2 separate regions of the Homo sapiens genome follow, and region 1 is reported to be linked to region 2. The links are microRNA targets in miRTarBase. Many come from high-throughput screens and were not tested one by one. Region 2 holds a microRNA gene; the other region holds the end of a gene's coding sequence.
The links. Region 2 holds the annotated microRNA hsa-miR-361-3p (UCCCCCAGGUGUGAUUCUGAUUU, at 1,617-1,639, opposite strand). A microRNA usually pairs through its seed, bases 2 to 8, with sites in the 3' UTR of a target mRNA and lowers its output. Matches are read on the target gene's strand: a 7mer-m8 pairs with bases 2 to 8, a 7mer-A1 pairs with bases 2 to 7 and ends in A, and an 8mer does both.

Region 1: miRTarBase lists CHD4 as a target of hsa-miR-361-3p. Seed matches in the 3' UTR shown: 7mer-m8 at 3,294-3,300 and 8mer at 3,223-3,230.

Annotation. Positions count from the first base shown.
Region 1 is chr12:6,567,305-6,571,304 of GRCh38, forward strand. CHD4 (chromodomain helicase DNA binding protein 4) reads right to left here. Exons shown (of 40, transcript NM_001273.5): 39 at 3,565-3,728; 40 at 2,778-3,389. The coding sequence ends at 3,372. It overlaps NOP2 (NOP2 nucleolar protein), which reads right to left and starts at 987. Exons shown (of 16, transcript NM_001258308.2): 1 at 903-987; 2 at 512-618. The coding sequence starts at 614. CHD4-AS1 (CHD4 antisense RNA 1) reads left to right here and starts at 1,067. Exons shown (of 3, transcript NR_199067.1): 1 at 1,067-2,226. RefSeq lists enhancers at 837-1,458, 1,282-1,331, 2,999-3,293.
Region 2 is chrX:85,902,025-85,906,024 of GRCh38, forward strand. It overlaps MIR361 (microRNA 361), which reads right to left and starts at 1,683; the gene lies at 1,612-1,683. The region is part of intron 9 of CHM (CHM Rab escort protein); the gene reads right to left.

The DNA of each region.
Region 1 (4,000 bases), not on the chromosome of region 2:
TACTATCTCAATAAACTGCATCCTTTATCCAATGCCCAACACAAACTCCCGGTCCAGTGTTACCTCCCACCAGTCTTCCACACAGTATACTACTACTCGGCATGAAGCAGCCAGATCCGTGCTTTTCCATTTCCACCCCTTCCAAAAGGCAAATCAGTGACTGACCCCTCCCCTTCACTACTTCCTCTTGCTACAATGTTACCCATTTTTCAAAACCCAGCTTAACAAAAACTTTTACAGTTCTGCATGGGCTCCCCCTTCCTCTGAACTCACAATTGTTTTAAATCACACTTTTCCCTTGCATGAATAATAGTTGTGTCCGTGTCTTCACATCTCTACGACCTAAACAGTTCCCTACAATCTAAACGGCTGTTTCATTCATACCTCCTAGTAACTCATACAGAGAAGATTCCACTTAAATATAAAATGAACAGAAACTAAAAAAGAGAAGAGGTTATAATACAGAATACTGCAAAAGCTGAGGGATCAGGAGGCCACAACTAATCCTTACCTGCAGGCAAGAATCTGACGAGTTCTGTCTCGGCACCCTTCTGCTTCCGGGCCTTTCGGCCTGGCCCCCGCTTCTCCTTCGTAGGGTCCAACTTGCGCCCCATGGTACTGTGGCAGGCAGAAATGGGAGAAGGTGGCGTCGCGCGTGTCGGAGGGAACGGCAGAACGCACGCTTGGCGTATTATAGTGGGAAAGGGCACAGCCTCAACTCAGCACCCGCAACTCACTCAGCACTCCCGACTCAGCACCCGCGACTCAAGCACCCCCGCTATCCCCCTGGAGGCCCGACCGAACGCCCTCCCACCTGAAACCCAGGTAGCGCACCCTTCTCCCCACGTCCCAGACCAGGTCAGTGCTGCCACTCTTCGTCCCCCAATTTCCTCTAGACCCACCAGAATGCGGGTTAATGTCCGAGAGTGCCCTTCGGGCGGCCCTCCACGTGCAATCCGGACCTAGCTTTCGGCCGGCACTCGCCACAGAATCGTTCCACGCAGGCGCACGGGTAGCGCTAGCCTCGCGGCCCCGCCTCTTCCTGTTGCGCCTAGTCGGCCGCCGCACCCGGAACTTACGCTCGCCCTGGGAACGCCAGCGGAGCCGGCGGCGGCGAGTAGGGGGCAATTCGAAGGAGACGCGCAGCTTACACCCGCGGCGGGTGGAGGGAGCAATGTGACGAAACCATTGAGCTTGACCGACCTTCCCTCATGGAGTTGGCTTTTAGCCTCACGGCCGGTTTCTGTTGGGTGAAAGCCGCACCTTCTCCTCGAACCAGGGCCCGACATTGGAGCCCTCTCCCTCGCATCCACTGCCCTAGTCCAGCGTCAAGATCACGGAATTCCAGGCTGGGCGCAGTGGCTCACGCCTGTAATCCCAGCACTTTGGGAGGCTGAGGTGGGTGGATCACTTGAGGTCAGGAGTTCGAGACCAGCCTGGCCAATATGGTGAAACCCTGCTTCTACTAAAAATACAAAATTAGCCGGGCGTGGTGGCGGGCGCCTATAATCCCAGCTACTCGAGAGGCTGAGGCAGAATTGCTTGAGCCCGGGAGGCGGAGGTTGCAGTAAGCCGAGATCGTGCCACTTAAGCCTCACCAAGAGCGAAACTCCACCTCAAAAAAAAAAAACAAAAAAACCAGCCGGGCTCGGTGGCTCACGCCTGTAATCCCAGCACTTTGGGAGGTCGAGGCGGGCGGATCACGAGGTCAAGAAATCCGAGACCATCTTGGCCAACCTTGTCTCTATTAAAAATACAAAAATTAGTTGGGCATGGTGGCTGGCGCACGCGTGTAGTCCCAGCTACTCGGGAGGCTGAGGCAGGAGAATCGCTTGAACCCGGGAGGGGGAGGTTGCAGTGAGCTGAGATCGCGCCACTGTACTCCAGCCTGGCAACAAAGCGAGACTCCATCTCAAAACAAACAAACAAAAAAAACCGTGGAATTCCATGCCACTTACCTCCTCCTCTTTGCCCCTTTTTTAAAAATCTTTTTATAGAGACGGGTTGTAGGGGGTGGCGTCTCACTATATTGCCAGGGCTGGTCTAGAACTCCTGGGCTTAAGCGATCCTCCTGCCCCCACCTTTGTGCTGAGATTACAGGCTGTGAGCCACCGTGCCCCGCCCTCCCAGCACCTTCCTTGATGCTGACCCCTGCTCAGCCCCTCAATTAAGGTGCTGCACTGCACCTCATTCGCAGGGGGCCTCTTCGCCGGAACTCGCTTTCAGGTGGGTCTACAATTAGTTGGGAAACAACGGGTTGCAAGGCTGACCTGGTCTGGGACATGAGAAGGGGTGAACTACAAGGGTTTCAAGGTTGGAGGACGTTAGGTCGGGCCTCCGGGGGTGTGGGATTGAGGCTGTGTTCTTCCACAAATTGCATCCCAATTTTGCACAACTTAGCAAGAAAACCCCCCTCAGCCTTCCTAGAAACTAACATTAAGGTAGTGGTTAGGTGTTAAAACCGTTCCATGTACTTCACTGGTTTAACTTGACAACCGTATGAGGTATACATGAGATATCTGCATCCCACCAAAGTTAAACAACTTGCTCAAGGTCACAGAGCCATTAAGCGGCGGTGCCCGCAGTTTTGCAGCCTCTCATTTTCCACAGGTGGAAGTCAACGTTGGCAAGGCACATACTGCACCCACACACAGAACCCAGTTACTCAGTGGGGTATCAGGACACCACGTAGCCCTTAATTTTCAACTATACAGGTGCCAGGCTCCTGCCGCACACACTCATCCACCTGCACCTACACCCACACTGAACCAGAGCACTAAAATACAAGGAAACTTTTATTTTCAATTTTCATCAAGAAATTTGCTGTGGTTTTTTATGCTTTTGGTTTTTTCCTTTTTTTTTTTTTCCACTTTATTTCATTTAGCCGCTCAGTGGCTAGAGCCGCTGGGTTCCTGGTATTAAAAAGATGCCAACAGAGGTAGCTGTGTCTCGCCCAGGGGCCCAGCCCACTCTGAATACCCCCCAAAAAGGAGAAAAGAAAACACAAAATAAACCAACAAAATAAAACCAAAAGGAGGAAAAAATTCAGATCATTTTCTTCAAGCCTGGCAGGAACCCACAACAGTTTGTGTGTAACAGGCGTTACAGTGGGGAGAAGCCAGGGTCCAGAAGGCCAGCCCGCCAGCTCCTGCAGATGGCGCCAGCGCTACTGCTGCATGTCTCTTCTGCAGGAAGGGCACCACTGCCCCTCACTCCCTCCCCTCCCCCAGTGCACTGGGGCTGTTCCTTTACAACATGGAAGATGGGCAGAAGGAAGGTGAGGGTCTCTCAGGCCCCCAGGGGAGAAGCTGGGACAAGAGAAAGTGAGGAAGGTCACTGCTCAGCGGTGGAGGTGGTATCAGTCTGCATCTTCACTGCTGCTGGGCTACCTAGAGAAGGAGACCCGAGGAGTCAGAATTCCAGATGATAGGAATCCACCCAATCTCAAGGGAATTCACTGATAGGCCACCCACCCAGTATGTAAAGCTAGGGACATACAGCAAAGTTACAAGCTCCAGAATGGTTCTGCAGGAAGAGGTGGTGTCAAGAAGAAAATGGTCCTACCTGCTGTGGGGTAGGTTCGGGTGCCCGGTTTGCCAGGCGGCTGAGAATGTTACGCTCTGACATCTGTAACCTCACAGCAACTGGGGGAATTCGGGCAATGGTAGCTGGGAGTCGAGTCACATCAGCTTTCATGTCACTCAGCAGTTCTTCCAGCTGTTTCAGAACTGCATAGGGAGAAAAAGAGGTGGTGAGCTGTGGTGGCCCAGACTGAGCTCCCTCTACCCTAGTGGACCAGCCCCCCATCACTTCTCAGTGACCAAGTAACTGTGATGTATTGTCTTCTGTCATCTGACCTGACCTCCACCATGTTCAAATTCCTACTCCTCATATTCCAGTTCCAACTGTCCATGATTTTGTGCTTTTTAAAGTCACCTAAACCTTCACTATCCCTTACTATTATTGTATTTCCTCTTCTTGAGCTTATTCGTTTTTTCTC
Region 2 (4,000 bases):
GACTTACCAGCATTGACAAAGCCAGTATGCAATATTTCAGGAACTATATGCAAATGACTGTGTGTTTGCTATATCTTTTGATTATGGAAATATCAATTTATTTGTGTCACAGCTTCTCCTTTGGGGAACAGAATTATTTTATTAGAAATGAACTTATGTGTTGCCCCTCATAAGATGCAAGCAAATTAATTCCAAAAGCATACTGTAAAATATACTGGTATAAGTTAAAATCTGTTCATTCACTTTAAAAATAAGCCATATAAGTGATATTTTCCAGGAATAAAGGCATTAAAAATAAAATGACTAACACTCAAGACCAATAGTGAGAGGAATTTAATTTGTATTTCCTAAAGGCAGATTATAATATGCTGGTATTTTTTAATAAATGGCATCCCACTGTTGTAAGGATAGTCTATGATGTCTAGTGATGTTACATGTACATAATAGATATTTTAACCAATTAACCACCTTTTAATATAACATTTGTAATATTACGTTAATATTTACATGATTTTTTTCCATCTCATCTCCACCTTCTTTCTCTTCTACACTTCTGTTTCTATACATACCTCCTCATATTTCATTGAACTAGAGCTCTTGCCTTATAAAATACTTAAGAAAATAGATCTGAAGTATTTACATCTGATATTCTCCAAAATAATGTTTTAAAAACTGAAAATATAAGTAATTCACTCAGTCTTCTATTTTAAAACACTCATATACCATTTGAAACACAAAGTGCTTCAGGCAATTGAGAAGAGAAATCTGCTGTCATTAAACATCAATCTCTATTTGTCCTGTAAGCACTGACAAATCTTTTTCTTACCTTTAATTCAGAGACTATGTAAAGTCAAGAGGAAATAACTGGGCAGAAAAAAGGGGTTGTTAAATTTCTATATCTTGATAGGGGCTTAGGTTATACAGATTTATCATTTGTTAAAACTCAGTTAAGAAGCACTTAAGATTTGGACCCTTCACTGTATATAAATTTACATCAAAAGAAAAACACTTAACAAATATTGAGCTCCAGGTAATAATATGCAAGCTGGAAGTATTTAGGGGAAATTTTACTGACATCTGCAATTCACAGTCAAATGCATTAAAAAGATGACTCGATACATGGATAGAGGGGTTAATATTTGGGTAGACGTGTGACTGAACAAGTTTATTAAAATGTTATAGAATCCAGGAGGTGGATATACAGGTGTTCTCTTGAAATTCCTTCCATGTCAGTATAAGTTTGAAAATGTTCATCATAAAATGTTAAAATAAAACTGGGGGAGGGGGTCAGTGTTAATATAAATCTCAGACCTGAGTGTAAGTCTTTAAAAAGGGTTCCCATTTAAACTGTATTATTAAACCTGGCCCTCAAGCTTTGTAGGCTTCTAAACATGAACGAGGTTGTTTTGGTGGTAGCCATACCTTTGGTGACAGACATTTGTTTCAAAAGTTATGATATTAGAAAGAACTAATGGAGATCACTCAAAAGGCAAGTATGGGGGTTTGGGAGTTAGGGAGCTCAACCATACCAGGAGAAGATACTAATACATGTGCCTATTTATGCTGATGCTTCTAAAGAAACGGTGATTCTCAGAGCAGGAGGAGGAAAAGGAAGCAAATCAGAATCACACCTGGGGGACTTTTTGAAATTATAAAGTACCCCTGGAGATTCTGATAAGCTCCCAAATCCCAGGAAAAAAATCACTGTCAAGCGTGCCACTGCTACTGTTGTATCTCTTATGTTGTGCTAGGTGGAGAAAAATCAAGGGCTATTGGTACAGATAAAATATTTGTTTCTGCAGAAATTGAGGTGATGGTCACATATGCCCAAGTCTCAGTCTGGTAGATGATAATAACATGACTCACCTGATAATATCACGCTGAAGTACTAAGACTCTAGGCTTAAGCAAAACTGCTCAAATCAAGACATGTTTAAGCAAGTGATAAGATATGTTTTCCTCTCAGACATTTAACTTACTGTCATATATTCAGCATAATTGGGAAAACAATGAATAAAAAAACATTGATTTTAGATCTAAATTTAGTCTTTGTATTATAAAGATTCATATAAAAAATTAGATGACATTTAATTAACAGAAAGCAGCAAAATAAACAGTGCTGCCAGAGTCATGAAAATACCCCTCCCACATAAACCTGAGGAAGGCAGGAAAGATTAAACCACGTAAGATTTAGTTGAGGGCCTTGCTGAGCCTCATAAATAGTAACTTGAGGAGGAACGTAACAGGTGTCTCCAGTTACAGGGACACAATGACCAAGCTGACCATACAAAACACTCAAGCCAGACAGAACATTTCTAGAGCTAAGCTTTCTAAATCAACAAATCACAAGTTATTCAGTTATTGGTTCAACGATATAAGTGTGTAGATAGCAAAATGATGATGAGGAAGAAAATAGTAAGATGAAAACTCAAAATCTGGAATTTGGCCCAGAAGAGGAAAAATAACACTAAAACAAGTATTCAATCTCTGTGATCTTCAGAATGAATATACCAACTAATTTTATGATAAAGAAAGCAGAAATCACATATGGAATAATTTAAAGGAAAATGTACTAAGGAAATTAGAAGATTCTCAATCACTGAAGAAAACAAAATAATTTTCCCTAGTCACTATGCCCTTCTGAGCTTTCTCAAACACATTAGTTCAAATGCTACCTCATCCATAAAACCATTTCAAATGCTTCCCACTCATTTTTCTTGGGTGAAAAACACTCTACTAGTTCTAAACACCATTAGCAGGCAAATAACTTCAAATCTATAGTTTTAGGCTCTGACTTCTGTTAAGTTCTGTATCCATATTTGTAATTGTCTATTATCTACTACTTTCTGGATAGACTCCAAGCTCCCTTTTAATAAATACTTAATTGAAAAACAAAAATTGTATATAGTCAATGTGTATAATGTAATGACTTGATATACACTGTGTAATGATTACCACAAATGAATTAACACATCTATTGCCACCCATCATTACCATCTGTGGGTGTCATGAGGAACTTAATACCTGCTCTTACCAAATCTCAAGGAAATAATATAGTATTATTAGCCAAGCATTTTTTAAAACTAGCATGCTGCAAACTGAGTTTATCATGGCTCCTCACCTGCTCCCACTCCCTTGGAATCCCTATGTCAGGCAATGGCATAATCAGCAGTTTTCCTACCTCAAATCTCTTTTTATATCTAGTCTGCTATAACATTTTGATTCCGCTTTATAAATACTTCCTGAAACTAGCCTCTTCTCTCCGTCTCCACTGATACTGCCTTAGACTCTTACAATGTCTAATATGATAATGACCTGCTAGCAAATTGGTAGTTCATTTGTTCAACATAAATGTATAGCATAACAACCATGTGCCAAGCACTGTTCTAAGAGGTAAGAATAAAAATGTTTTGCCCTAAAGGACAAGATTCAGACAGAGACAATTTTTGAAGATTCAGGCAGAGACAATTTTAAGACAATAGCAAAGTCCAGTGATAAAAGATAAGGATAGGGAATTACACAGTACTAGAAGAGGTACCTAACTCATCTTATGGTGGAGGGGTGGAGTATCAGGGAATGCTCTTTGGAGGAAGTGACACATTTGTTGCTTTTAAAGGATAACATACAGTTAAGCAAGCAAATAAGGATACAGTTATCTCAGGTAGAAGGGCAGAATTTGCGGGGTTACAAAGGCAAGTAAGAGAACAGCAGGTACAGAGACCCATGAACAGATCAGTATTATGTGACAATAAAATGAAAAGCAAGTAGGGAAGAGAGATGAGCCTAGACAGGGAGACAGAGGCCAGATTACAGAGTCTCACCCGTCATATGTCATGTAAAAAGGTCTTACACTTTATTCTGAGATTATATAAAGGCACTGAAGCTTTTTAAATAAGGAGGGGGCCAGATCTGCATACCGAACAGATCTCAATGTGCAATTATCTTATAAATTTAGTTGTTCTGTAATGTCCCCCAGTAGACTGTAAGTTCCTTAGAACAAA